7 linked regions of the Homo sapiens genome follow. The protein of the gene in region 6 interacts with the protein of the main gene of each other region in a pairwise test. Each region holds a gene or a part of one and is shown on either strand. Other genes may lie near its edges.

The links.
Region 1: the proteins of PDGFRA (region 6) and CCND2 come close enough for resonance energy transfer, tested with the Homo sapiens proteins (one large-scale study listed by BioGRID).
Region 2: the proteins of PDGFRA (region 6) and LATS2 come close enough for resonance energy transfer, tested with the Homo sapiens proteins (one large-scale study listed by BioGRID).
Region 3: the proteins of PDGFRA (region 6) and MAP2K5 come close enough for resonance energy transfer, tested with the Homo sapiens proteins (one large-scale study listed by BioGRID).
Region 4: the proteins of PDGFRA (region 6) and TERT come close enough for resonance energy transfer, tested with the Homo sapiens proteins (one large-scale study listed by BioGRID).
Region 5: the proteins of PDGFRA (region 6) and ULBP2 interact in a two-hybrid assay, tested with the Homo sapiens proteins (one large-scale study listed by BioGRID and IntAct).
Region 7: the proteins of PDGFRA (region 6) and GRM1 come close enough for resonance energy transfer, tested with the Homo sapiens proteins (one large-scale study listed by BioGRID).

The regions. Positions count from the first base shown.
Region 1 is NC_000012.12:4,283,534-4,287,537, reverse strand, and holds part of CCND2 (G1/S-specific cyclin-D2), read right to left. Parts: intron 1-4,004. UniProt on the Homo sapiens protein: Regulatory component of the cyclin D2-CDK4 (DC) complex that phosphorylates and inhibits members of the retinoblastoma (RB) protein family including RB1 and regulates the cell-cycle during G(1)/S transition.
Region 2 is NC_000013.11:21,051,527-21,055,530, forward strand, and holds part of LATS2 (serine/threonine-protein kinase LATS2), read right to left. Parts: intron 1-4,004. UniProt on the Homo sapiens protein: Negative regulator of YAP1 in the Hippo signaling pathway that plays a pivotal role in organ size control and tumor suppression by restricting proliferation and promoting apoptosis.
Region 3 is NC_000015.10:67,646,699-67,650,702, forward strand, and holds part of MAP2K5 (dual specificity mitogen-activated protein kinase kinase 5), read left to right. Parts: intron 1-4,004. UniProt on the Homo sapiens protein: Acts as a scaffold for the formation of a ternary MAP3K2/MAP3K3-MAP3K5-MAPK7 signaling complex.
Region 4 is NC_000005.10:1,267,294-1,271,297, reverse strand, and holds part of TERT (telomerase reverse transcriptase), read left to right. Parts: intron 1-93; coding exon 94-179; intron 180-2,664; coding exon 2,665-2,778; intron 2,779-4,004. UniProt on the Homo sapiens protein: Telomerase is a ribonucleoprotein enzyme essential for the replication of chromosome termini in most eukaryotes. Active in progenitor and cancer cells. Inactive, or very low activity, in normal somatic cells.
Region 5 is NC_000006.12:149,940,496-149,945,116, reverse strand, and holds the start of ULBP2 (UL16-binding protein 2 preproprotein), read right to left. Parts: upstream 3,104-4,621; 5' UTR 3,045-3,103; coding exon 2,960-3,044; intron 1-2,959. UniProt on the Homo sapiens protein: Binds and activates the KLRK1/NKG2D receptor, mediating natural killer cell cytotoxicity.
Region 6 is NC_000004.12:54,266,949-54,270,952, reverse strand, and holds part of PDGFRA (platelet-derived growth factor receptor alpha isoform 1 precursor), read right to left. Parts: intron 3,665-4,004; coding exon 3,493-3,664; intron 3,402-3,492; coding exon 3,212-3,401; intron 321-3,211; coding exon 205-320; intron 1-204. UniProt on the Homo sapiens protein: Tyrosine-protein kinase that acts as a cell-surface receptor for PDGFA, PDGFB and PDGFC and plays an essential role in the regulation of embryonic development, cell proliferation, survival and chemotaxis.
Region 7 is NC_000006.12:146,430,680-146,434,683, reverse strand, and holds part of GRM1 (metabotropic glutamate receptor 1 isoform alpha precursor), read right to left. Parts: intron 813-4,004; coding exon 1-812. UniProt on the Homo sapiens protein: G-protein coupled receptor for glutamate. Ligand binding causes a conformation change that triggers signaling via guanine nucleotide-binding proteins (G proteins) and modulates the activity of down-stream effectors.

The sequences.
Region 1 (4,004 bases), on a different chromosome or scaffold from region 6:
CTCTTTCTCGTTTTAGCATTGCTCTAGTGAGCTTACTGTGTGTAGACATGGAAGGGGCACGTGGGGGCAGGAGACACAGCATACAGGGAACCGTGGGTCACCCTTCAACTTACAGCAAAAACAATCAGGTTAAATCTACAAAAACCAGCCCCTCTCCTATTTCCCCTTCCTCCTGTACACACTCTATTACAAACACACTTTCTACAGCAGCTCTTTTAATGGTCAGCCCATTGCCCCAGCATCAAGTTAGCAGCATTGTTAGACACCGTGGATCCCTGAGCCAAGCACAGCCCTCCCCTCCCATCATGAACGCAGAGCAAACCTGGCCATCTGCCTGTCTCCTTGGCTTTTTCTCCATTGCCCTCTCACCATCTCCACCTCTTGAGGGACGTATATAATGGTGCTGCGCCCACGCCTGCTGTCCACCCGCCCCTCCTACGCCTTCTCTGTCGCCATGAACAGTGTGACAAAGCCAGCCTCCCTGCCTCTTGCTCTGCTGTAGGTCTCTTCCACATGGGTCACAGGAGAGTGTTTCTCTGCCCAATAACCTCGTTAGCTCCCCCCTGTGACATTCATAACACAAGCGGGGCAGCCGGCCCATGGCCCTGGGCCCACAAAGGCCCGGGTGGGAGCATCTGCCAGGGAAGAGGCAGGCAAGTATCCCCGGCCCTCCCTTCCCTCTGCCATAGGCCTCAGACCGGGAAGCACACCTCACACATGCCCATCTCTGCTGTCCCACTGCTAGCAAAACCAACTCTTATTATTGGCATACGAATGAACTTCTGGAAGCCAGCAGGCATAGGGGGAACAGGTGCACCGGTTGCACAGGGAGACTCTACCTCCCTTTTTGTTTTACTAAGAAGATTTTCAGGGGAGTCCTCTTGGGGACACTGTCCAATCCCACAGAATTGGGGAGCACTATGTGCATGAACTTGACTGCCTCTCAGCAGCTCAGAGTGGCACCAAAGGAGCAGTGTGTTCCCACAGCCAGAGGAGAGACGCCGCTGGAGACGAGGACGGCGGCCGTGCTGCCCTCTGTTGCCCGCTACACAGAAGACGAGCATCTTCCTCGGGATCCCTGAGCATGCCCCACCTCTCCTCCAGGTTAGTCAAATACTGAGGCAACATCAGCCCTCCAGCTAGGTCCAGACGTGGGACTGTGGGCAAGTCACTTCCTCTTTCCAAGGGCTTGGTTTCCCATTTGTCTAATAACGGGTTGGGTGAGATAAGTGTTTTTCTAACTTCTAGCTGCAACTCATTAATGGGTCATGAAATGCATTTGTGGGTCGTGACCAGCACTTTCTGTTGTTGTTCTCCTTTAACCAAATAGAGTAGGATAGAAAGTATCAGGCTCACCGTATGTCGTTAAGAGTAAATATTGTTCGGAGAAACTTTTGTATCAGTTTGATATACTTGTACAAGTATCCTGAGTTGTGTTATAAAATGTGTTTCTTCCTACATGGCTTAGGTCAAGAGTTTAAAGATAGTAAGCAGGATAACCTCCCAGGTGCCTTACAGGTCTACTTTGCTCTTACTTGAGGATCTGGAATGGGAATGACTCCCAAGGAGAAGAACAATGAGGAGACAATAGAATGGATCACGGTGTCTACCAGCCGGCAAATTCACAAAGCAGCCCTCTCCACAGAGCGGCGCTACTTCCCCGTGGCACCAGGGCTGCCCCAGGACCACTCTCAAGGACATCCCCCTCTCTACTGGTAGGGGATACTGAACAGAGAGAAAAACAAAAAAATCAAACATCATTTCATCTGTGCACTAGCTTCCTAGCTGTAATTAGCCAACCCCCACCCTCAACTGTGGAAAGCTCCACCTACCCAATGCAGCCATTCCTGGAAACCATCAGCTTTGTCGCTATGACAGGATGGAGAAATGGTCACAATATCCACTCAGAAGAAGGAAGCGGAAAACCAAATTGCATGCATGCATGCGACGATGAAGATTACAACCATGGGTAAATACATACATATATGCCTATGGATGAACTGGAAGGATGCACGGAAAATAAAAGCTGTTCTGTTAGGTGGGAGAAACACAGATGAGTTTGTAAAATTTGTACGTAATATTATTTTAACAAATAAAAACCAGGTACAAATTTCTCAGCAGTCTGTTAAGTCTCTTGATCAAAAATGCCAACAAGCAATATGCTGGTGCAGAAGGCACGCTCAGGGGTGAGGGTGTGCCCTCGCCATCGTTAATTGCCCACCTGGAGAGGTGAGATGCTGGTGACTTCCTGAGATCCTTCCTCCTGCAGCAGAGAGAGAGGCAATGAACCGATCAGCGATCCATTCTGATCGACTCATGACAATGTGCTCCTCCCTGTTCCAGGCAGCATGGAGGACTCCCCCCAAAACGTACAATATTCAGACTTCTTAAGGCTGGGCATCAATGCATTAGATAGTAGAGGATGGTGTGCTATAATGGCTAGGTCTGTACTACTATATGGATAACTTCTGAAGAAACTTCTCAAAGAAAGGGGGCTCTTGAAGGCTGGGCGCAGTGGCTCACAGTGTAATCCTAGCACTTTGGGAGGCCGAGGTGGGCAGATGACCTGAGGTCCGAAGTTCGAGACCAGTCTGGCCAACACGGTGAAACCCTGTCTGTACTAAAAATACAAAAATTAGCCAGGCATGGTGGCACGCGCCTGTAATCCCAGCTATTCTGGAGGCTTGGGCAAGAGAATCACTTGAACCCGGGAGTTGGAGGTTGCAGTGAGCAGAGATTGTGCCATGCACTCCAGCCTGGGTGACAGAGCAAGACTGTCTCAAAAAAAAAAAAGAAAAAGAAAAGAAAAAAAAAAAGAAAGGAGGCTCTTGAGTGAAGAGGAGCATTTGAGACACTTCTCAGAAGACTCTTCAGGGAGATGGGAAGGATTTGGAGAGTAGACTCAAAAAGCTCCAAGCTGGAACGTGGAGTGCACGGAGCTTGGGCAGCCTCCACTCCTGCCCCAGTCCCCACCAGACCCAGGAGGGCCTTTCTCCAGGTTGCTGCATCTGGAGATCTGAAGAGAGCAGGAGCAGCCACACGCCTTGCCATGGGCAACAGAGGCCGTCCCAGGGCCTAGGGCTCCAGCTCCCCTCCAACCAAAGCAGACCTCTGGAGAACACAGCTCACTGGTTCAGAGTATTAGCTCTGGAATCAGAAGGAGGTGGAATCTCCATCCCACCACCTACCAAGTGTGTGAAGATGAGCAAGTTACCTGACCTCTCTGAGTTTTCATTTTCTGATCTGCAAATAATGACAACAGCAATACCCACGTTGTAGTGCTGTTCTGAGGATTCACTTAAAATAATCCTTGTAAAAGCACAGTGCCTGGTTCAAGGTAAGCAATGAATGTCAGCCAGCATCCTCCCCAACCTGCCCCTCCTCTGCTCTCACTCCTAGTACTTCCTGCAGGACTGTGGTGGGGAGTTCCGACTGGAGATGCTCTCCAGCGTCTGGAGGGATGAGGAGAAAGGCGCCCAGCATCCCTGGATTGCAGGCAGATGCAGGGAGCAGGCCAAGCAGGCCAGGAAGAATGAGGGCTCTGTGCTTCCTGGAGAATCTGTCACTATCCAGTTGTGTATGTGTCCCAGAAATGACATCATCGAGTCCCCAAAGCCTCCTGCTGCTTTGCAGAACTGGGAGAAAGTGCAGCCCCACAGGGGAATGAAAAGAACCCCATGAACACTCAGCGAATGGAAGAGAGAAGTTGGCAACTCTAACCCAGCACATTCCACAATTCATTGAGATGCAGTTCACCCGAGCCAAGGAACGATGCCCAGATAACCAGGAACACCCGACATTCCCGCCTCCCTCCTGGCAAAATGGTGGAGGCAAAGGACACACCTTAGGGGAATCCCAGCTGGACCCACAGGCGCCAGGGGCAGCTCTGCTGTGGGCTGCATGCTTGCTTATGACGGCGGTGATGATGGTGAGGTATTAATAAAAAGGAGCTTGAAATTCATCTGTTTCAAACATCTCCTTTTACAGGTGAATCAATGAAGTCT
Region 2 (4,004 bases), on a different chromosome or scaffold from region 6:
CCCAAGTTTCTGGTTTGAAAAATGGGGCCAGTGGTGGTGCCATTCTCTGAGCCAGGAAACCTCACCTGTCTGGGCAATGCGGCCCACCAGGAGAGCAGTGTCAGTGGTGGAGGAGGAAGGCAGTGACCAAAGGTGAAAAAGCACAGGGCAGGCTGGGTCCAGTGGCTCACACATGTAATCCTGGCACTTTGGGAGGCCAAGGTGGGAGGACTGCTTGAGCCCAGGAGCTGGAGACCAACCTGGGCAACAGAGGCAGACGGCATTTCTAAAAGTAATTAAATAATTAACCAGGTGTGGAGGCACACCTATGGTCCCAGCTACTCCGGAGGCTGAGGTGGGAGAATCACTTAAACCCAGGAAGTAGAGGCTGCAGTGAGTCAAGGTCACACTACTGCACTCCAGCCTGGGAGTCAGAGCAAGACCCTGTTTAAAAAGCACAGGGAGGGGAAGCTCACTGAAAACTGGGTGTGCAGTGCTAAAGTGGCTGGAGGTGGGAGGCCTGGGTCCTTCCCCAGCTCTGGCACTGAGCGTGTGGTCTGAGCCTGTCACTTAACCTTGCTGAGTTTCAAGCTCCTGCACGGTACCAAGGGTCTAACACCCGCTACTGTCTACCTGACAGGCTTGCCTTGAGGATCACAGTGGTGCTGTGTGTGACAGCAGGCTCAATCTGTAATGCATGATATACTGATCAATTATCACCATTACTAATTAAAGATTTATAATAAGTTAGGCAAAAAAGGTTTAATGAGGCCAGGAGATAAGACCACGGAAAAATTACCAAACTGAACACAGAAACAGGTTGCTTGCTCCAAGTGACTCCTCTTTATTTTTTATTTATTTATTTGGGAGAGTCTCACTCTGTCACCTAGACTGGAGTGCAGTGGCTCAATCTCAGCTCACTGCAACCTCCACCTTGTAGATTCAAGTGATTCTCGTGCCTCAGCCACCCGAGTAACTGAGATTACAGGCGTGCACCACCACACTCGGTTAATTTTTGTATTTTTAGCAGAGATGGGGGTTTCACCCTGTTGCCTAGGCTGGTCTCGAACTCCTGATCTCAAGTGATCCACCTGCCTCAGCCTCCCAAAGAGCTGGGATAACAGGCGCGGGCTACCATGCCCAGCCGAGTGACTCCTCTTTAAATCAGTGTTTGAGAATGATGCTTAGAAAGTTAAAGTAGCTTTCTTTTAACTGTAAAGACAGAAAAACACAGAGAAGAAAAGCTTAAGTCTTTCCTCTCTGAAACGTGCCTGCAGCCAGGTGCCAGGTTGGTCAGTTCTGAGCAGCATCTGAGCCTCAAGATGCTGACTGCGGCTCAAACAGCAGGTCTGGGTTGACTCTGTGATCCTGTGTATGTCAAAGGCACCGATGCTTCCTGTCCTCCCCAACCTGCAAAACCTTTCTCTCAGCTAGAAAAACCGAACGCTGGGCCGGGCACGGTGGCTCACGCCTGTAATCCCAGCACTTTGGGAGGCTGAGGCAGGCAGATCACGAGGTCAGGAGATCGAGACCATCCTGGCCAACACGGTGAAACCCTGTGTCCACCAAATATACAAAAATTAGCTGGGTGTGGTGGCACGCACCTATAGTCCCAGCTACTAGGGAGGCTGAGGCAGGAGAATCGCTTGAACCCGGGAGGCGGAGGATGCAGTGAGCCGAGAACATGCCACTGCACTCCAGCTTGGCAACAGAGTGAGACTCTGTCTCAAAAAAAAAAAAAAAAAAAAAAAGCCCAACTCAACCCCACCTGCCTGGCTCACTCCTACTCCTAAAACCTCAGCCCAGAACCCCTCCCACAGAAGGACCTTCCTGACCTCCCCAATCTAAGGGACCATACATGTTCACTCCCAGCCCTTCCCACAGCACCACCACTGGCTGGTGTGCTTCCTCTTGAAGAATCTGATAGCACCACGAGGGCAGGAGCATCCTGTTTGGTTTACCCCCATCTACTCCCAGGCATGTGCACACAGGCCCACGCAACATCTGTTGAAAGACACAGGTAGTCACTCAGCACCGAATCTGCGTCCTCAGTTCCACACTGAGGACAAAGCCTGCCAGTGCCACCCCAAAGGTCTAAGGTGATAAAGGAGAACGAAGCCTCAGTCAACAGCAGCACCTTCTCTGAAGTTTAACATGCAGGTCTAAATGAAACGGGCCCAAGGGAGGTTCACACAGAACAAAAGTCGCAGAACTATGGCATATTATTCAGCTATAAAAAGGAAGGAAATCCTGTCATATGCAACAATAAAGATGTACCTCAAGAACATTATGCTAAGTGAAATAAGCCAAACACAAAAAGGAAATATTGTATGATTCCAGTTATGTGAGTTACCTCCAGCAGGCAAATTCATAGAGACAGAAAGAAGAGAGATTACCAGAAGAAAGGGGAACAGGGAATTTTTACTTAAGGGGTACAGTTTTTGTTTGGGATGATGAAAAAGTCTTATGTATAGACAGTGGTGATGTTTGCAGTAATGGTGCATTTAATGCCACTTAACTGAACTGTATACTTAAGAATGGTTAAAAGGATAAATATGTATATTTTTCCTCAATTTTTAAAAATGGGGAAAAAAGTCTCCTAACTACTCCTATTTAGCAAACTCGTGTTTGAACAATGGCTCCCTTTTTAAACATAGCTACACGGCTGGGTGCAGTGGCTCATGCCTGTAATCCTAGCACTTTGGGAGCTGGAGGCAGGAAGGCAGGAAGATCACTTGAGGTCAGGAGTTCAAGACCAGCCTGGCCAACATGGCAAAACCCTGTCTCTACTAAAAATGCAAAAATTAGCTGGAAATCGCTTGAACCTGGGAGGCGGGGGCTGCTGTGAGCCGAGGTCATTCCACTGCACTCCAGCCTAGGCAACAGAGCAAGTCTCCACCTCAAAAAGAAAAAAAATTTAAATAAATAAATAAACATAGCTACACAATGAGAAGACTGGACCTAGGGACTGGGTAGGATATAGCAGGGCAAAGTCTCCACGTGAAGTCCAAACCCTAGGGCAGCTGCACCTCCCCACCCCACTGGCCCTCCACCACACGGACACTGACTCACAGCAGAGCCACGCTCCTAGAGACACTTGGGGTGTTAAGCATCTGTGGGTGCCACAAACATTCAAATAGTAAAATCAACCAGGGCAGTCGAGACTGGACATTTCTATGTCGATGTCTGTTTATACCTGAGCAAAGAAATACTAAGTGGCCGTGTCCCTAGCCAGATCAGGAGTCCTGGTTTTTCTTTCTTTTTCCATTCCCCCCTCAACATTTGCTTATGAAAAATGTCAAACATACAAAAAGGTTGAGAGGATTATTCAGTGACATCCCTAAACCTACCACCTGGTTTTGTTTGGTACGGAGGGAGGGGGAGGACCCCACAAGCTGTTCTGATTTTTTCTCCATCTCCCACCATAGTGAGGCACTAGTCTAGGGATACCACAAGGGCTGTCCCTGTCTTAAGTGAATATGAAAAAATAGTACCTACGGATAAACTGTGTTCTTGCCTGAGTACTTTAGAAAGGATGAAACGTTCCTTCAGTTTCATAGAGAATGAAAGCATTTTTTCAGCTTCAGACAGTGTATTTTAAGCTTTAGTTTGAAGACAGTTGATTTCATGGCCAAATTATGAACTTTTGAAAGAATTTTCATGAGAATACTCATCAGTCAAGACTGCAGCTGGAAATGAACAACTCTGACATATTACTATACCATTTTAATGAGACTTCACATACGGGAAATTTTTCTTTCATCAAGAGTTTTATAAATATGACCCTCATGGATGTGGACTTTAAAAAAAATGGGGATATCAAGCAAAGTAAATCTAACTTTGGAAATTTCTTTGGCATCACCAATTGATTCACACACATTTTAAGTAACAAACTACAAACACTGGAATTTTAAAACCATAACAACTCACAAAACAAAAACACCTCATTCTCTAAATCCAGAGCTGAGACAACTACTAAATCCCATGCTTAATATAGGTGGCCTGTGTAAACAATGTGAGAGCAA
Region 3 (4,004 bases), on a different chromosome or scaffold from region 6:
GAACAGATTAAATGCTAGTCTAATTGGTGGTTTGATATTTGATTCTTTTGCACAATCTGTCTTTACTTGCAAAACAGATGTTCTGTTCTTTTAATGTTTCAATAGCCAAAACAGATTTTCTTTTAAAGAAATCTATTAACCCAATGTCCTGTGTCTTTCAGAAAGAAATCGGTTCTTAATTGCAAGATAAGAAATTGTTTTTCAACACAGCTGTTTAGCCAAGATGTGTTTAATTTTCTTTGGACTTTAGCCCTTTCCTTCCCTCTCTATTTTTTTATTCATTTCTATTTTGGTAGTTCTTTCTTGACCTGAATATTACGGCAAAATACAGATTTCTAGGGACATATCAGTGAAATGATGTCATCATTATTATTATTTACCAATTTTAAATCTAAGCAGTCTTTAAATTTTACATATTCAGTTTTCCATAGTCTAGTCCATTAAAACACAACTTAAGAAAATATTGTTAGTTCCTTGTGGAGATTCTCAGTACATTACTAAAGCAATTAGTTTGTGCCCTGCAAAACTTTAATGAGCCAACATTGGTACCTTGATACTGTCATAAGGTGTACAACATGCTCTAAATTAGTTATAGTAGAATGTCAAAAATTAAAAATCTTACAGCCATATAGGTAAGTATGGTAACTGTGGAGACTGACCAGAAAAAGTGGATTCATTGAGCCAGTACATGTTACTGTGTTGTAACTTTTATCATTCTTTCTTTGAAGTCTTCAATTTTTCAGTTCTACTCAAACATTTTTGTTGAAACAGGGCACGGTGGTTCACGCATGTAATCCCAGCACTTTGGGAGACTAAGGTGGGAAGATTGCTTGAGCCCAGGAGTTTGAGACCAGCATAAGCAATATAGTGAGATCTCATCTTTACAAAAAAATTTTTAAAAATATGGCCGGGCACGGTGGCTTACTCCTGTAATCCTAGCACTTTGGGAGGCCGAGGCAAGCGGAGTTTGAGACCAGCCTAACCAACATGGCGAAAACCCGTCTCTATAGAAAATACAAAAATTAGCCAGGTGTGGTAGCGCATACCTGTAGTCTCAGCTACTTGGGAGGCTGAGACTGAGAATTGCTTGAACCTGGGAGGTGGAGGTTGCAGTGAACCAAGATCGCGCCACTGCACTCCACCCTGGGTGACAAAGTGAGACTCTGTCTTAAAAAAAATAAAAAAAGGAAAATTAGCTAAGCATGGTGGTACGGGCCTGTAGTCTCAGTTACTCTGGGGGCTGAGGTGGGAGGATTGCTTGAGCCCAGGAGATTAAGCCTGTAGTGAGCTGTGATCGTGCCACTGCACTCCAGTCTAGGCAACAGAGTGAGACCCTGTATCAAAAAACAAATAAATTAAAATTTTTTATTGAAATATAACTCAGATACCATAAAATTCACCCTTTAAAAGTGTACAATTCCATGGTTTTTGATATACTCACAAGGTTGTGTAGTCATCACCACTGTATAATTCCAAAACACTTTTTACCACCCCCAGAAAGAGACTTCCTACCTATTAGTACTCACTCTCTACTTTCTCTTTCCTCAAGTCCTTGGCAACCACTGATTTATCTTCTGTCTCTATGGATTTACCTATTCTGGACATTCCATATAAATGGAATCTGATAATATATGGCCTTTGTGTCTGGCTTCCTTTACTTAGTATAATGTTTTCAGTGTTCATCCATACTATTGCATATATGAGAACTTCATTCCTTTTTATTGCTGAATAACATTTCGTTGTATGGCTATACTACATTTTGTTTATTCTTTCATTAGTTGATGGACATTTGGGATAGTTCTACTTTATGCATAATTATGAATAATGCTACTCTATATATTTGTGTACAAGTTTTTGTGTGGACATACGTTTTCAGTTCTTTTTTTTTTTTTGAAACAGAGTCTCGCTCTGTCGCCTAGGCTGGAGTGCAGTGGGGTGATCTCGGCTCACTGCAACCTCCACTGCAACCTCCACCTCCTGGGTTCAAGCGATTCTCCTGCCTCAGCCTCCCGAGTAGCTGGGACTACAGGCGCGTGCCACCATGCCCAGCTAAGTTTTGTATTTTCAGTAGAGACAGAGTTTCACTGTGTTAGGATGGTCTCGATCTCCTGACCTCGTGATCTCCCCGCCTTGGCCTCCCGAGGTGCTGGGATTACAGGTGTGAGCCACTGCACCCGGTCAGTGTTTTCAGTTCTTTTGGGTATATACCTAGGAGTAAAGTTGCTAGGTCATATGGTAGCTTTATGTTTAACTTTTTAATAAACTACCAAACTTTTCCAATCTGTTTTACACCACTTTGCATTCATACCAGCACTGTATAAGGTTCCATTTTCTTCATATTTTTGCCAATACTTGTCATTTTGTGTCTTTTTAAAATTGTGGGCTTGTAGTGTGACATGGTATCCCATTTTGGTTTTGATTTAGGTTTCTCTAATGACTAATGATGTTGAGCATCTTTTCATGTGCTTATTGGCCATTTGTATACCTTCTTTTGAGAAATATGTTTTCAAATCCTTTGTCTATTTTTTAAATGAGTTATTGGGCTTTTATTGTTGAGTTGTGAGAATTCTTTATGTATTCTAATACTTGGCTCTTATCAGATATGGGATTTCCAAATATTTTCACTTATTGTTTATCTTTTCACTTTCTTTTTTCTTTTCTTTTCCTTTTTTTGAGCTGCGGTCTCATTATGTTGCCCAGGCTAGTTTTGAACTCCTGGGCTCAAGTGATCCTCCCACCTCAGCCTCAAGTTTTATTGTTTTAGCTTTTATATTTAAGCCTTTGATTTATTTTTGAGTTAATTTTTATATATGGTATGAGATAGGGGTCCAAATTTATTCGTTTGCATGTAGATATACATTTGTTCCAGTACCGTTTGTTAAAGACTGTTTTTCCCATTGAATTTTCTTGTTATACTTGTTGAAAATTGACCATAACATATATTTCTGTACTTTCAGATCAATGCGTATACATCTCGCATTGATCTAGTTGTCTATCTTTGTACCAGTACCACACCATATTTGATTACTTGTACTTGAAAACTCTGGATTATTATAGTTTTTAAGTTTCAAATCGAGAAGTGTAAGTGCTCCAACTTTGTTCTTTTCAAGATTGTTTTGGCCATTTTGAATACCTAGCATTTTCATTTGAATTTTAGAATCAGCTTGGCAATTTCTCCAAAAAAATCCAGCTGGGATTTTGATAAGAATTGAATTGAATTTTTAGATCAACTTGGGGAATATTGCTGTCTTAACATTATTTAATCTTCCACTCCGTGAACACAGATGTCTTTCAACTTACTTAGGTCTTCTTTAATTGTTTTTCAATGATTTAAAAATAATTTTTAGGGTATAAGTGGTAACTATTTGTTAAATTTGCTTCTAAGTTTTTTTAATGCTGTTTTTCTTAATTTCATTTTTGGATTGTTCATTGCCAGTGTATAGAACTGTAATTGATTTTTGTATATTGATCTTGTATTCTGCAACCTTGCTGAACTTGTTTACTAATGTTAATAGCTTTTTGTGGATTCCTTAGGGTTCTCTATATACAAGATAATGCCATCTGCAAATAGAGGTAGTTTTAGTGCTTTCTTTTCAATTCTGAATGTCTTTTATTTCCTTTTCTTGCTTAATTACCCTGGCTAGAACCTTCAGTACAATGTTGAATAGACTGATGAGAGCAGACATCCTTCTCTTGTTCCTGACCTTAGAGGGAGAGCTTTCAGTCTTTCACCATTAAATATGATGTTAGCCATGGGTTTGGAATAGTTGTCCTTTGTCAGGTTGAGGAAATTCCTTTCTATTTCTAGTTTGTTGAGTTTTTTTTTTTTTTAATTATGAAAGGGTATTAAATTTTGTCAAATGCCTGTTTTATATCTATTGAAATAATCGTGCATATTTGGTCCTTTATTCTATTAATATATGGTATACTATATTAATTGATTTTTGCAAAATGAACCAGTCTTGCAGTGTTGGAATTATTCCACTTAGTCATGATGTGTAATT
Region 4 (4,004 bases), on a different chromosome or scaffold from region 6:
ACCCCAAAAGGGACGGAGGGTCTTGGCCACGTGGTCCTGCCTGTCTCAGCACCCACCGGCTCACTCCCATGTGTCTCCCGTCTGCTTTCGCAGAGCTCCTCCCTGAATGAGGCCAGCAGTGGCCTCTTCGACGTCTTCCTACGCTTCATGTGCCACCACGCCGTGCGCATCAGGGGCAAGTGAGTCAGGTGGCCAGGTGCCATTGCCCTGCGGGTGGCTGGGCGGGCTGGCAGGGCTTCTGCTCACCTCTCTCCTGCCCCTTCCCCACTGCCCTTCTGCCCGGGGCCACCAGAGTCTCCTTTTCTGGCCCCCGCCCCCTCCGGCTCCTGGGCTGCAGGCTCCCGAGGCCCCGGAAACATGGCTCGGCTTGCGGCAGCCGGAGCGGAGCAGGTGCCACACGAGGCCTGGAAATGGCAAGCGGGGTGTGGAGTTGCTCCTGCGTGGAGGACGAGGGGCGGGGGGTGTGTCTGGGTCAGGTGTGCGCCGAGCGTTTGAGCCTGCAGCTTGTCAGCTCCAAGTTACTACTGACGCTGGACACCCGGCTCTCACACGCTTGTATCTCTCTCTCCCGATACAAAAGGATTTTATCCGATTCTCATTCCTGTCCCTGTCGTGTGACCCCCGCGAGGGCGCGGGCTCTTCTCTCTGTGACTAGATTTCCCATCTGGAAAGTGCGGGGTTGACCGTGTAGTTTGCTCCTCTCGGGGGGCCTGTGGTGGCCATGGGGCAGGCGGCCTGGGAGAGCTGCCGTCACACAGCCACTGGGTGAGCCACACTCACGGTGGTAGAGCCACAGTGCCTGGTGCCACATCACGTCCTCTGGATTTTAAGTAAAACCACACACCTCCCGGCAGGCATCTGCCTGCGACCCTGTGTGTGCCTGGGGAGAGTGGTAGCACGGAGGAAATTCGTGCACACTCAAGGTCATCAGCAAGGTCATCCGCAGTCAGGTGGAACGTGGAGGCCTCTCTCTGGGATCGTCTCCAGCGGATAAAGGACTGTGCACAGCTTCGGAAGCTTTTATTTAAAAATATAACTATTAATTATTGCATTATAAGTAATCACTAATGGTATCAGCAATTATAATATTTATTAAAGTATAATTAGAAATATTAAGTAGTACACACGTTCTGGAAAAACACAAATTGCACATGGCAGCAGAGTGAATTTTGGCCGAGGGACACGTGTGCACATGTGTGTAAGCGGCCCCCAGGCCCACAGAATTCGCTGACAAAGTCACCTCCCCAGAGAAGCCACCACGGGCCTCCTTCGTGGTCGTGAATTTTATTAAGATGGATCAAGTCACGTACCGTCCACGTGTGGCAGGGCTTTGGGGAATGTGAGGTGATGACTGCGTCCTCATGCCCTGACAGACAGGAGGTGACTGTGTCTGTCCTGTCCCTAGGACACGGACAGGCCCGAAGCTCTAGTCCCCATCGTGGTCCAGTTTGGCCTCTGAATAAAAACGTCTTCAAAACCTGTTGCCCCAAAAACTAAGAACAGAGAGAGTTTCCCATCCCATGTGCTCACAGGGGCGTATCTGCTTGCGTTGACTCGCTGGGCTGGCCGGACTCCTAGAGTTGGTGCGTGTGCTTCTGTGCAAAAAGTGCAGTCCTCTTGCCCATCACTGTGATATCTGCACCAGCAAGGAAAGCCTCTTTTCTTTTCTTTCTTTTTTTTTTTTTGAGACGGAACGTCACTGTTGTCTGCCTGGGCTTGAGTGCAGTGGCGCGATCTCAACTCACTGCAACCTCCGCCTCCCGGGTTCCAGCATTTCTCCTGCCTCAGCCTCCCGAGCAGCTGAGATTACAGGCACCCACCCCCTGCGCCTGGCTAATTTTTGTATTTTTAGTAGAGAGGGGTTTTTGCCATGTTGGCCAGGCTGGTCTCGAACTCCTGACCTCAGGTGATCCACCCACCTCGGCCTCCCAAAGTGCTGGGATTACAGGTGTGAGCCATCACGCCCAGCCGGAAAGCCTCTTTTTAAGGTGACCACCTATAGCGCTTCCCGAAAATAACAGGTCTTGTTTTTGCAGTAGGCTGCAAGCGTCTCTTAGCAACAGGAGTGGCGTCCTGTGGGCTCTGGGGATGGCTGAGGGTCGCGTGGCAGCCATGCCTTCTGTGTGCACCTTTAGGTTCCACGGGGCTATTCTGCTCTCACTGTTTGTCTGAAAACGCACCCTTGGCATCCTTGTTTGGAGAGTTTCTGCTTCTCGTTGGTCATGCTGAAACTAGGGGCAAGGTTGTATCCGTTGGCGCGCAGCGGCTACATGTAGGGTCATGAGTCTTTCACCGTGGACAAATTCCTTGAAAAAAAAAAAAGGAGTCCGGTTAAGCATTCATTCCGGGTCAAGTGTCTGGTTCTGTGAATAAACTCTAAGATTTAAGAAACCTTAATGAAAGAAAACCTTGATGATTCAGAGCAAGGATGTGGTCACACCTGTGGCTGGATCTGTTTCAGCCGCCCCAGTGCATGGTGAGAGTGGGGAGCAGGGATTGTTTGTTCAGAGGTCTCATCTGGTATGTTTCTGAGGTGTTTGCCGGCTGAATGGTAGACGTGTCGTTTGTGTGTATGAGGTTCTGTGTCTGTGTGTGGCTCGGTTTGAGTGTACGCATGTCCAGCACATGCCCTGCCCGTCTCTCACCTGTGTCTTCCCGCCCCAGGTCCTACGTCCAGTGCCAGGGGATCCCGCAGGGCTCCATCCTCTCCACGCTGCTCTGCAGCCTGTGCTACGGCGACATGGAGAACAAGCTGTTTGCGGGGATTCGGCGGGACGGGTGAGGCCTCCTCTTCCCCAGGGGGGCTTGGGTGGGGGTTGATTTGCTTTTGATGCATTCAGTGTTAATATTCCTGGTGCTCTGGAGACCATGACTGCTCTGTCTTGAGGAACCAGACAAGGTTGCAGCCCCTTCTTGGTATGAAGCCGCACGGGAGGGGTTGCACAGCCTGAGGACTGCGGGCTCCACGCAGGCTCTGTCCAGCGGCCATGTCCAGAGGCCTCAGGGCTCAGCAGGCGGGAGGGCCGCTGCCCTGCATGATGAGCATGTGAATTCAACACCGAGGAAGCACACCAGCTTCTGTCACGTCACCCAGGTTCCGTTAGGGTCCTTGGGGAGATGGGGCTGGTGCAGCCTGAGGCCCCACATCTCCCAGCAGGCCCTCGACAGGTGGCCTGGACTGGGCGCCTCTTCAGCCCATTGCCCATCCCACTTGCATGGGGTCTACACCCAAGGACGCACACACCTAAATATCGTGCCAACCTAATGTGGTTCAACTCAGCTGGCTTTTATTGACAGCAGTTACTTTTTTTTTTTTAATACTTTAAGTTCTAGGGTACATGTGCACGACGTGCAGGTTAGTTACATATGTATACATGTGCCATGTTGGTGTGCTGCACCCATTAACTCATCATTTACATTAGGTATATCTCCTAATGCTATCCCTCCCCACTCCCCCCATCCCATGACAGGCCCTGGTGTGTGATGTTCCCCACCCTGTGTCCAAGTGTTCTCATTGTTCAGTTCCCACCTGTGAGTGAGAACATGTGGTGTTTGGTTTTCTTTCCTTGCAATAGTTTGCTCAGAGTGATGGTTTCCAGCTTCGTCCATGTCCCTACAAAGGACATGAACTCATCCTTTTTTATGACTGCATAGTATTCCGTGGTGTATATGTGCCACATTTTCTTAATCCAGTCTATCATCGATGGACATTTGGGTTGGTTGCAAGTCTTTGCTACTGTGAATAGTGCCGCAATAAACATACGTGTGCATGTGTCTTTATAGCAGCATGATTTATAATCCTTTGGGTATATACCCAGTAATGGGATGGCTGGGTCAAATGGTATTTCTAGTTCTAGATCCTTGAGGAATCACCACACTGTCTTCCACAATGGTTGAACTAGTTTACACTCCCACCAACAGTGTAAAAGTGTTCTGGTGCTGGAGAGGATGTGGACAGCAGTTATTTTTTTATGAAAATAGTATCACTGAACAAGCAGACAGTT
Region 5 (4,621 bases), on a different chromosome or scaffold from region 6:
AGGAGGAAGTCTCTGTCTGCTGAGAAACCACATGTCCCCAGACATGTCCCACTGCCCCTCTGCCCACATCAGTCAACACGTGACCTTGCTAGAAAGGTGCCAGGCCTCTCTAGCAAGAGAGGAGGAAGGGCCTGGATGGCAGAGGATCTTCAGCAGTAGCCCACGTGGACTGCGGGAGGTGGGAGAGGGTGTGGGTCCACCCCTGTGGATGCTGGTGCTGGTTGAACAGAGTGAGGATGGAACCCCGTTGGATAAAGAAGAGTTAATTATCATGGCCACAGGATTTAACATGTTGGCAAAGCCCCTGGTGATGGCATGCATCTGCTATGAGGAGGCCTTCCTGAAACCTTGGACAAAGAGATGGTCCACACAGCAAGAAATGGAAAATCTGAAAGTCTAAGGCAGGTAGTGGAGGGAGAGATCACAGGCTCAGAGAAGTGCCCATGCCAGAGGGGTCTAAGTGTGAAAATCCAGAACAATGTCCATCCACTGTGCTTATGGGAAACCTGGAGGACTCCTGTTTACCCAGCATATAAAGAAGGCCCCATGAGAAGGCACCAGAATGGAATGAAGCTTAGGGATGCCTATTGCTGAAGGCCAGGGTTGGGGGTAGGAGATGCTGTTCCTGAAATCTGCTCCCAGAGTAATGGGATGAACAATTCTGAAATTCCAAATTCCAGGTGGAGGCTGTCAACTGTCAGGAGCAAGGAGGGTGCAATGATGGAAATGATTAGAGAAGTCACAATGCCAGCTGGGGACCTCAGTTATACAAAGTTATGCCCATGGCTCATAGAACAAAGGGGTCCAAGGTCCAAAAGAGATGCAAACCCACCCCAGATACTGCTGGATTTAAATAATTACAAGAAACAGAGATAAACCAAATCAGGAGGCTGAAAGTAGCCAGTCCATCAAGAACGAGGCTGCTTTGCCTAATTTGCAGAATGAAGCCACTTCTCAGACCCTGAACCCATGACTAGAAGAAGACACCAGTTTCTAGTGAGGAAGGACCCTTTAACCCTGCAGCCAGGACAGTGAGTCCTTGTGGCCTTCTCCAAAGATATTTATGGCCAGTAGAGTTTGCTGTGAAGGGCAATTTTGTAAACATGTAAAGGTGTGCAGGGAATATATTCTCCATTGTAACTACTCAACTCTGCTGTTGAAGTTCAAAAGCAGCCATAGACAATCCATGCATGATGAGCGAGGCTGGACCTACCTTAAGTGCCCAATGACCCAAGACCCCCTAAGACCCTAGAGGTACATGTGGTCACAATGTCTAATTGGAGAATCACAACAGAGATTCCATGTGAATATTCAGAGACAAGGCAATGCCACTCACAGCAAGGAAATCGCAACATTAAGCAGTGGCTCCTGTAGAGTACTGCACCTTGGCAGAGATGGGGCCTTTTGCCATGCATATAAAGAAGGCCCATGACAAGGCACCAGAATGGAATGAAGCTTAGGGATGCCTATTGCTGAAGGCCTCAGAGCTGCCCATTACTGGTGGGCTCCTCACCCTCTAGGTCATTAGGAAGTTAGGCCCAGCAGTGAGAAGACGCAGGTGGTTCTTCTGGGATGGGCAGGAGCAGGGCCACCGGGAACCAAGAAGCTGCACAAGCAGTTGGACCCGATCCCCAGGACACCACGTGGCTGCACCCCCTCACCCTCAGCTCACACCTGAGGCTTCAGGGAGGGTACCTGATGGTCCCCGTGGATGCCACTCAGCACAAAGGAGGGGAGAATAAGCCCCCAACTATGGGACCCCCACTCCCATCACATCCACACCACCCAGAAGCCACAGACAAGGTAGGACCACCTTCTACTCTCCAACTGACATCAGAGACATCACTTGGAGATGACACCATAGGGGATGGGGCACTATTCACTGGGACATTGTAATCCCCTGATCTGGGATCAGCAACCTAGGACAGGGTCCAAATCTGGTCCCCCCTATTTGAAGGTTGCCATTGCCTGCTGTTGCTCTACAAAGGGACAGGACTGGACACTGAGACGGAGAACCCACGGCCTGCAAAGATCACAGGGCATCCTTCCTCCCTTTCTAGAAAGAGTTTGCTGACCCCTGTCTACACAGTGACTATTCTCTATGACGCTGACACCCCCGTAGGAAGAACAGGCGGTCTGGGCCCCAAGGGCAGAAGTGGGTGCCTCTACTCACCAGAGTTCCCAGGGTCATCCTGGAGGAAATGGTGCTTCCCATCCCCCCTGCACAGGTTCTGAGGGGAGCTTGGGGTGTGTTTGCTGGGGTGTGTCCTCAGGCAAGAGGCAGAAGGTGCGACGTGGTGTAGGAGGTGGTGAGGTCCCCTTCATGGATGGGGAGACCTCTGGGGTGACCAGCTGGGCTGAGGTGGGCAGTAAGAGGACGTGACCTGGGTGGTGGCAGTGGATGGTGAGGGGAGGGGTGGCGGTTGTCTGCTGAGCCCCTGGGTGCAGGTGAGTGTCTACAGGAAAGTGCAGGGAAAAATTCAAGGGCACGCAGCCCTGGGGGCGCTGGAGGGTTTGTGTGGTGGAGAGCGGGTGAGAGCAGAGCAGGCCTGTGGCTGGTGGGGGTGTCTGTGATCGCGTCCCTGTGGAATCCCGCTTCACCCCTGTCCTGTCCCCAGCTCCGGTTCCGGGGGCTCTGGTTTTTCCTTCCCGAGGGCGGGTGGGACTGCCAGGCTGCACCAGGGATCCCCGCCCCACCTCGCTCTCTGCAGCCCTCCGGCCCCTCCACCCTCCTGCCAGCCTCCTTTCCACCCCGCTCCTTTTCGCCTCTTCCCGGGCAAGAAGCAGCCTCGGGGACTGCACCCAGCAGGAAGGAGCCGCCGACCGGAACTGAACGGGGGCGCAGTTAGGGGAGATCTCCCCCGTCCTTCTAGAAGCCTCCCCTCCTCTGAAACCCGCGGCAGTTCACAGCCCTCCAGGCTTGGTCCCCGCCCGGCTTAGGCTCCATCCACGAACTCACCGGCTCGCCCAGCCCGGGACCAGCCGGACAGCAGGAGCAGAAGCGGGAGGCACAGAAGGATCTTGGTAGCGGCGGCTGCTGCCATTAAGGACCCAGAGCGCTAGGGATGAGAGACTTGATGGAAGGAGAGCCTGGAAGATGAATCACCTCAAGGTTTTAAAGCCTCCCTATGTACGGGCGCGCCCCCCGTTTCCCGCTGTCATAGCGTCAAGCGGGTCATAGCGTCACGCGGCTAGAAATATGATTGGCTGCCCTGACGGTGTCCCTCCCCTTCCCGGGCGTCCCTCCCCTTTGTCCCAACCCCCTTCGGGTTGGTGTCTGGGTGTCCGCCCGGCTCCTGCCAAGACACGGTTCCTTCCACGACAGACTCATTTAATCATCACAACATTTTTTTATTGAAGGTGAAGAAACTTGCAGAGGAATATTCAGCGGCGGCGGCGTCTCCCTGTCCCCGCCTGGGTCCGCGACGCTCTCCCTCCCTCCGCCTGCGCCGCGAGGTCCCTGGCTTATCATGCTCTGGGCGCAGCCACGGGCCTGATCGCGTCCCCTCCACTACTGCGCCAGTTCCCAGTGGACGTGATTACAGTCCGGGCTAGGTTTTATTATTTATTTATTTATTTATTTATTTATTTAGAGACGGAGTTTCGCTCTTGTTGCCCAGGCTGGAGTGCAGTGGCGTGATCTCGGCTCACCGCAATCGCCGCTTCCCGGGTTCAAGGGATTCTCTGGCCTCAGCTTCCGGAGTAGCTGGGATTACAGACGCCCTCCACCACGCCCGGCGAATTGTTTGTATTTTTGGTAGAGATGGGGTTTCATCTTGTTGGCCAGGCTGGTCTCAAACTCATGACCTTAGGTGATCCACCCGTCTCGGCCTCCCAAAGTGCTGGGATTACAGGCGTTAGCCACCGCGCCTGGCCCGGGCTAGGTTTTATTACAGGAGCAGCAGGCAGGGTTCCAGAGGTTTAAAACAACATATTGTGCACTAAACAACTGGTCAAGATGGTAAATTTTATCTTCTATGTTTTTACCAAAATTAAACAGCTTTAAAAATATATATTAAAAAATTATGTCTTGTTCCTGCTCTGCCCAATGCAGATTGGCCAAAAGAGTCTACTTATTAAAATCGAGGACAACATGGAGGACCCCGTTCCTAAAATCTCAACCTGTGACACACTTGCTGATTTAGAAAGCTCCTCAGAGAGATGGGCCCTGAGCTCCCAGTTCAGCAGCCTCCCTCGCCCAGGTCCACGGATGGCACAGGGGGCTCAGCAGAGCAGGTTCAAGTGAAAGTTCCTGGTGGTTCCCCACTGTTAGTGCATTCTGCTGGCCTCTTCGCCCTGGGCAAAGGGCCAGCCACCCTTCAAAGCTAGGCACAAATGCCCGGTCCCATGCGTGTCCCTCATGTTCCCACAATACAGAACACCCTCCTGCTCGCTGAGACCTGGGTCCACAGTGAGTGCATCCAGATCTCCCTGTGTGACAACTGCTCACACAATTTAATTTGTGTGTGTAAGCATGTGTGACAGACTCTTACTCTGTCACCAGTCTGGAGTGCAGTGGCACGATCATAATTCACTGAATCCTCAACCTCCTGGGCTCAAGGCTTACTCCCTACTCAATATTGGAGAGTGTGGGGCAAGATAGTCTGAGCCACTAGCTGAG
Region 6 (4,004 bases):
GCCTACTCTAGAGTAACCCAGAACCTCCCAGAAATACCTGAATTCATGAGTCCAGCAGAGGTATTCCCGATATGTGACATATGCAGACACTGCTTCTCCCCTAAGTGCTGCTTTTCTTCCATGACCGGGGAGAAAAGTGCCAGGCTTTCCTTGGAAGACACTCATCTACAGAGCTAGCATTATCTTTATACTCCCTTTACATACCTTGAGTTAACAGTTCAAAAGTATAGCTCTTCACAGCATCTTCATTTTGAGCTACAATAGTATAATGGCCACTGTCTTCTTCCTTAGCACGGATCAGCTTTAATTTGCTTCGATACCTTTTAAAAAAAGGATTTTGTTTCAACAAGCAGTAGCTAAGTAAGTTCCAATTGTTTAAACAATTGTACTCTTCAATTTAAGTTTTATTTTTACTGTAAAAAGTAAAGTCATCTTTTTTTCTTGTCCATATCATCTCTTCTGGAATTCTCAATATATAGTGCACACACTGAAGGTCTGGATCATACACACAATTCTTACAAGAGAAAACCAGACATTCAGAGATGAGCAATGGCCATCTCCAAGAGCTATCAGTTCAGCCACGGCCTGACTTCTGAATGAATAAACACAGCCTACCAACTTTTCTTTAAAAAAATAAAAAATAAAAACCTTTGATTTTTACCTTTTTTAAAAAATACTTGCTTCCCCTAAATATCCATCATTTAGGTGGTTCAGCCAAAAAATGGAATATCACTGGAGGATAGAATGAGGACACTTTCTATGTATTTGTATGTAGCGGTCTGCAGGATATGACAGTCCTACTTGCTTGTATTTTGCTTAAAGAAACTCTGGAAGGTTTCATAAGAACCTAATGAAACTAATGAAGATGTTTCCCTGTGGGGAGGAGGGGAGAACTGGGCAGCTGGGGACAGGAGTACAGTGAGGCTTCTTACAATGCATTCTCTTTTTGTTTGATTATTTTTCAAGCACGGGATTCTATCACCTATTAAAAAAAAGTTATAGGCTGGGTGTGATGACTCACACCTGTAATCCCAGCACTTTGGGAGGCCAAGGTAGGTGAATCACTTGAGGTCAGGAGTTCGAGACCAGCCTCACAAACATGGTGAAACCCCCATCTCTACTAAAAATACAAAAAAAAAAAAATTAGCCAGGCATGGTGGCACATGCCTGTAATCCCAGCTACTCAGGAGGCTGAAGCTGAAGAATCGCTTGAACCCAGGAGGCGGAGGTTGCAGTGAGCCGTGATCGTACCGCTGCACTCCAGCCTGGGTGACAGAGCAAGACTCCATCTCAAAAAAAAAAAAAAAAGTTAGAAAAAATATGCCTCTTCAAAAAAAAAAAATATATGTCTCTTCAAACTTTATTAAAGAGAAACTTCCCCAAAAATATTTTACATGGATTATAAATGACATCTGGTTGTGTGTGTGTGTGTGTGTGTGTGTGTGTGTATGTATGTGCATAAATATAGTATGTGCCCATTTGATTGTCCTTTATAAATCATCACAGTTGAAAAAGCAACTGGAATGGAGAAGAAAAGCATTGGTCATGGAGTGAGAAGATCTCGGGTATTATTACAATGCTCCATGCCTCAGTTTCCTTGTGTGTAAAACGTGATAATTGTACACATAGCACAGAGTCATTGTGAGAGTTAATTAAAGGAGATTGTATGTGTGAAAGCATTTCATAGGCTCCAAAACACTTTGCAAATACTGGGGCACTCAGACCTACGAAGACAGCAGGCTGGACCATACTGGGTGTGCTCCAGGACTGGATTTCCTTAAGAGAGTACCCTGGGGCACACTAGGATGCTGATTACCAAATTATCCTCTGCTGTTTGTTCTCTTCACTTCTTCGGCCAAGAAAACCACTGGTTTTCTTGCTCCAGGAAAGCCAGATCCCCCATCCTGGAGTTTTAAGCTCCAGGAAGCCAGATCCCCCATCTACCATGTTCATCTTTGTATTCACTGGCTCATAACAGGAACTAAAAAATCCACGTTGAAGCATCCTTGAATCACTAAAAGGAAAAGGCAGCTTTCCAGAACCACTCAGTTGGCGAGCCTGTCCTGCCACTGCTATGGATTATGGCTTGCAGACAGTGCTCACACACGTGTTGGAGGTGTTAGCTGTACCAGGGTTGTTACCCTATTCCTCTCTGGCTGCACAGCCTCATGGAAGTTCCTCGTGGAAAGCTGCCCTCCTTGTTGTACACCTTCATTTTGTGTCAACAGAAAGCCTTCCAGATTCAGTATCCCACTTCATTTTTCCTTTACTATTCTATAGAGGCTGTAAAATTCCATTTTCTCAGACATTGCTTCTCAATTACACGTGGAATTTAGTTCACAAAGAAGAAAGCAAATCCTGAGGTGAATGGAACTGATGAGAAAGGCTCTGTTCTTCCTCCTGAAGGCTTGAAATACAGGACTGACTTTGTCTTTCTGAGATGATTTCTGACAAAAGTATAGGGCTGGTTAGCTGGGTGCTGTGAGATGTATCTTCTGACTCTTGGGTTCTAATCACAGCTTAAAACCTTAAGAGGCCTCATGATATCATCTGATCCAATTCCTTGCCTTGAAGGACATAAGGTATTGTTTATCCTACATTGTAGATGAGGAAACTGTGGCTGAGGGGTGACTCATTCAAAACTCCACCACCAATTAAGAGATGAGAGCAATCTACCATTCTGATTAAAAGGTAGGGATCCAAGCAACTCACTGCACATCTCTCTCCTGATTAGCCAGGCTCTACTCTTCTTTCCTGTGGAGTCCTCAATTAGGGCAAATGGGTTCCAGATTAAGCCTATGACGTTAACTTTCACGTAAGGTGATGTGATAACTGCCTCATGGGTGTAATCACCATATCTGTCTACTTGCGATATGGATGATGAACATCAGGGAATATATTCAATCTATTCAATCCTGGTGAGTCCAATTTTACTTCCTTTCTTCCACCCTAGCTGAATCCAGTGACCTGTCTTTCCCCAGGGGCCAGAGCTTTTAGTTCTTTCTTCTCATCTTCTCATTAAATACTTACCAGCATACTAATACCACTTTGCAATGTTATCATTAAAGGGATGTGATTTCAAGCATCTCTTAACTCAGATTGTTACATTTTCTAGACTGACTTTGGGTCTGGGTTGTAAGACACACACAAACCTCAGTCCGCCTCTGATGCACACTAAAAAAAGGCATACTTGGGCAGAGAGTTTCTTTACCTTATTTCCTGAATCTTTTCCACATCAGTGGTGATCTCAGTGAGATTTTCAATCAGAGTCAGATTGTTTTTCAGCCAGGATATCCTGGGAGGTGGGTAGGCCCGCACCTCTACAACAAAATGTTTGACTTCATGCAGGTTGACAGCTTCCAACTGGCTGAAGGTGGGTTTGATTTCAATGAAACCTTTCTCTGTACAGGGAAGAGTTTCCATTAAATAATGATTACCACATATGGATCCCGAGCAGCATGGACAACTGACATTTTAGAAAGCGGAATGTACCATGGACAGAAATAGTGACTTTCTTCATTTCTTTGACCTCCCTGGTAGCCTGGCGGGCAGCACATTCGTAATCTCCACTGTCTTTCACCGTGGCCTCGGGGACCGTCAAAGTGTACACCAATTTGATGGATGGGACTTTGATTTCTTCCAGCATTGTGATGCCTTTGCCTTTCTACAGCAAAAGGGGAAGAAAACCGACTTTTAAAAAGCTCGCTCCTAGGAGTGAACTCTAAGATAAACTATGGACTCTGGATGATATGGATGTGTCAATGGAGGTTCAGCAGTTATAACAAATGGATGGTAGGGATGTTGACAAGGTGGGAGGCTACACATGTGTGGGTGTAGGGAACACATGGGAAATCTCTGTACCTCTCAATTTTGCTGTAAACCTAAAACTGCTCTAAAAGATAAAACCTAAAGAATAAAAGCTAGCTGCTTAGAAAATCATGAGATTTTTTATTTTGTTTTTAATTTTTTTAGAGACAGAATCTCACTCTGCTGCCCAGGCTGGA
Region 7 (4,004 bases), on a different chromosome or scaffold from region 6:
CCGAGGCCACCGAGTCGCGGAAAGGCGACGGAGGCGTCAGCGCAGGCGAATCATCCGGGGTCAGTTTGCTGGCCGCCTGCAGGTCCTCCTCCTCCTCTTCCAGTTCGTCTTCTTCCGTGTTCCCTTCCCGCTCGTGCTCATACACGTACTCCTGGAGGAGCTTAAACCTCTCGCTGTCGTCGTCGTCGTCCGCGGGCGGGGAGACCAGCTCCTCCCCAAAGGTGCTCAGCTGCAGCGGCAGCATCTGCAGGTGCTGCGGAGGTGGCGGGGGCGGGTACAGGGACCGCAGCCCGTTCCCGGGACCACCGGGGCCTGCCAGCACCGCGTGAAAATCCGGGATCGCGGTACTGAAGTTGCTGACCACTCCCTGGAGCTGGTCCATCAGCGATTTCTGCTGTGGAGGGGGTTGCTGCTGCTGCTGGAGAGGAGGGGGCAAGCCCTTGGGGAGGGCTGGTTCGGCCAGGAAGAGGGGGGTCTCCTCTGCGGTCAGGTGGGACGGCAGAGGCGGAGTGGTCGCCGCGCTTGGCACGCGCCTGTGCACCACCATGGAAGGGCTACCAGGCGGGCTAAAGCGAATCGGCTGGGCATCCTCCTCCTCCTCTACGTTGTAAAGGGTCTTGGTGCTGGTATCTGAAAAGGTCAGGCTCTTGCCAGAGCCTTGGTAACTTTTAGTGAGGGGCTTGATGACGGCTGTTTGGTTGCAGGCCGTCTCATTGGTCTTCACGTGCACAGAGAGGCGGTGCCACATATGCTGTCCCTTGGGCACCTGTCCTCCACCTGGTTCAGACCATGACACAGACTTGCCATTAGAACTATGAATAAAATAGAGATGGATTTATTTGCAGATAGATCATGCACACAGGATAAAATACATAGAAAACATATGCAAACCTAGCTCAGTGTGATTTAACTGCTGTCTCTGCTGTAGGCCTTTGCTCCAGCACCCCATACCTCCTCTTACAAAAAGAACACCAAAAGCTGAAGGAAATATTGACCCTGAGAAAAGTTGTTGAGGAGAAAAGCCAGTCTGTTGTAGAAATAGCTATTTTCATTTAGGTCTAAGATTTCACAAACCTCTCTTTTTTCTCCGTTGCACTCTCTCCCTCTCCCTCTGTCTCTCTCTGACACACACACACACACACACACACACACACACACTTTTGAAAAACTCCCAACTGATGGAGGAAAACTTTAAAAAAAAAATCTTAGTTACACATGGACAACCAAAATAATGGCTATTGTCCTTGGGACAAATTAGGACCCACATACAAAGCTACTCTCGTTGTGTTGTGGGATTATAAAATAGATCCTCTCAGTTGCCCATTCTCATATGCAAGTATTTCCCATGACCAGGGTGGCGTGATCACACAGGGTACCTATAAGGAACATAAAAAAGCAGATGACAGAAAAACTCAGACTCATGGTCAATTTATGAGCTTCATAGCTTTTGATTTTTTTAAAACATTTCAATGCATTATTTCTCACACATACAGTGGATCACAATTCACACAAAGGCCCTGACTCACAGAAGCTGGTTTGGGATTTTCACTCTAGGAACATTGAAATAGCTGTATTTGAAAAGCAATAGAATGAGGAAGCCAGGAAAAATACAAATGCCCACATCCTGCTTTAGGATAGTTTGATGCAAATAAGAGAAAATTATGATTGAGACAAAGCAGCAGTTACTGAGACGAAAACCTCTACTCATTGAGCCTTGGTGAAGAAGAGTCTTAGGGTGCCAGGAGCATCCCAGCCTTATCAACTCCCATCTTCATGGCACCCACAGAAAAGCAGCCATATGGAATTTCTCCCTGAATAAGAAAATAAGAAGATGTACTGTGGCCTACACCCCAAATTCTGTTCTGTCTATTGTAATAACTCTGATCTCACTTCTGGACTCAGCTTCTTTTCTGTATAACTTTAAGCAGATGTTGGTACCTTACCATAGCCTTCTACTAATAACAACGGTGGAATCCTTAAATCAGGAAATAATTGTTTCTTTTCTTTTTTTAGAAGTTTGCTTTTTCTCTGTACTCAGTAAAATGACAGAGAAAGTAGCATAATAGTAACACATTTATGACATTAAAAGGAATATAAAAATGGACATTTTTTTCTTTAAGTGGAGGTGTGAAATAGACTAATCCATATTCTAGTTTTTGTTTGGAAAAAATGTAGGAAATGATCAGTAGTTTAAATAATGGTTTATTTCATCATCTTGAGAATACAAGAACGAATACTTCAAAAATTATATGTGAGCATCATTTATGATGAAGGTAATATTTTGACATTTCATATTTTATAATCTTGAAAAGTAAAGTGAGCCAGATAAGTACAGATGAGTGTAAATGTCTGATATTGATTATAGAAAATTCTGGATATAAAGGCTCTAAAATAGATAAAACAGTTAAAGTTTTGACCTGATTATTTGAGAAATAGGTAGTTCCTCCATATATCTGATACCCTACACTGCATTTTTAATTGTCTAAGACAAAGCTCATCTCTGTTATGTCAAAGTTAATATTTCTTTCAAATATATGCCTTACACATTATCTGAGACTGTGGAAGTGCTTGTAAAGTTTTTAAAAATTGTCTTATTGACTTCCACACTATCTTGTTGGAATAGCTGACTCTTTTCTGAGGTAAACAAACTAAAGAACAGGTCAGTGGTGTCCCTGGCAAGAACAGGTAGTCAACCAGCTAGCCAGAATCACCACCAGAATCCACAGTTGCTCTTCTGAGCTTAAAACTGTAGGTAAACTCATCTTCCACTTAATCTTTTTCAACTGCCCCATCATCTACCACTATACACACTTTGTTTTTTTTATGCATTCAATATGCCTCTTCTAGAAAGGCAAATATAAAACTTATTTGCCTCTTACCCTCCTTAAGTATGCCTTACTATATATAGCATCCAACTCAATAATTTGCATCATTTTAAATTGCAATGAAAAAAATGTTTCCTTCCCCATCTTCCCACTTCTTCATAGGCATTAGGAAATGCCTTTTTAATGTTCACCAGGAAAATGCTTAAACAAAATGTTATCCTGTATCTATTTAGTTGTGTGTGTGTGTGTGTTAAAACAACAACAACAACAACAACAAACAGGTCCCTTGAGAAATAATCTGCCTCTAATTCAACCAGCAGGCTTAGCTGTTCCAATGACACATTGCCTTAGTTTCTACACATAATAGCAAAAAGGTACCTTGTTTCCTGAAAGCCCTAATGTGATCCACTTCACCCACTCATTCACATGGGCTGTTTTCCTCATTGTCCACAGGTTCTATGTGGGCCTCTTTTTAAATCAAAAGCACCCATAAGTTAACAGTATTATTAATCATGTTGCAGACAGATATAATCAGAATTTAGTTCTGTTTTAATTAAATCCAATTTTTATTGTTGAGATGGGACATTTTCACTATGGCCTTCAAAACTGGTAACTTTCGTTCCCCTCAGTCTTGCTCTAGATTTGCTGTAAAGTACTTTTAATTAGGAAACAGATCTCACACCTCAGGGCATTTATCAGATTAAGAAAATTAGTGTAATCTTTTTTCAAGGATAAAATAAACTGCTTTTTAAAAATCAAACATAGTAGAAGGAATGTATCATCTCACAGACATTGCAGCACTGAGTACAAACTTTAGTTCTTCAAGATGAGTCATTTCTTACCTGTGGTCCATAGATAATCTGAAAGGTCCATGCATCTATACCTGCATTAAGCATTGTTTTTAAACTGAATAAATATTATGTATTTGTAGACAATGCACTGCTGTTTTTAAATGTATGTAGATGCTGTTATGATAAAGAGTGTTATTCAATACATGTGTAACTAAATTCTGGGAAGCTTTTGTTTTGTTCTGTATTCAAATGGCCGTGAAGAGAGGTATATTTAGTAATAATAGATTCAGGTGAAGGCTTAAGAACTGTTTTGGTGAGAAAAGAGAGTATCTTATTTGAGAAGGCAGGGAACCCACTACTGTGATATTAAGAAGAGAAAAATATGTAA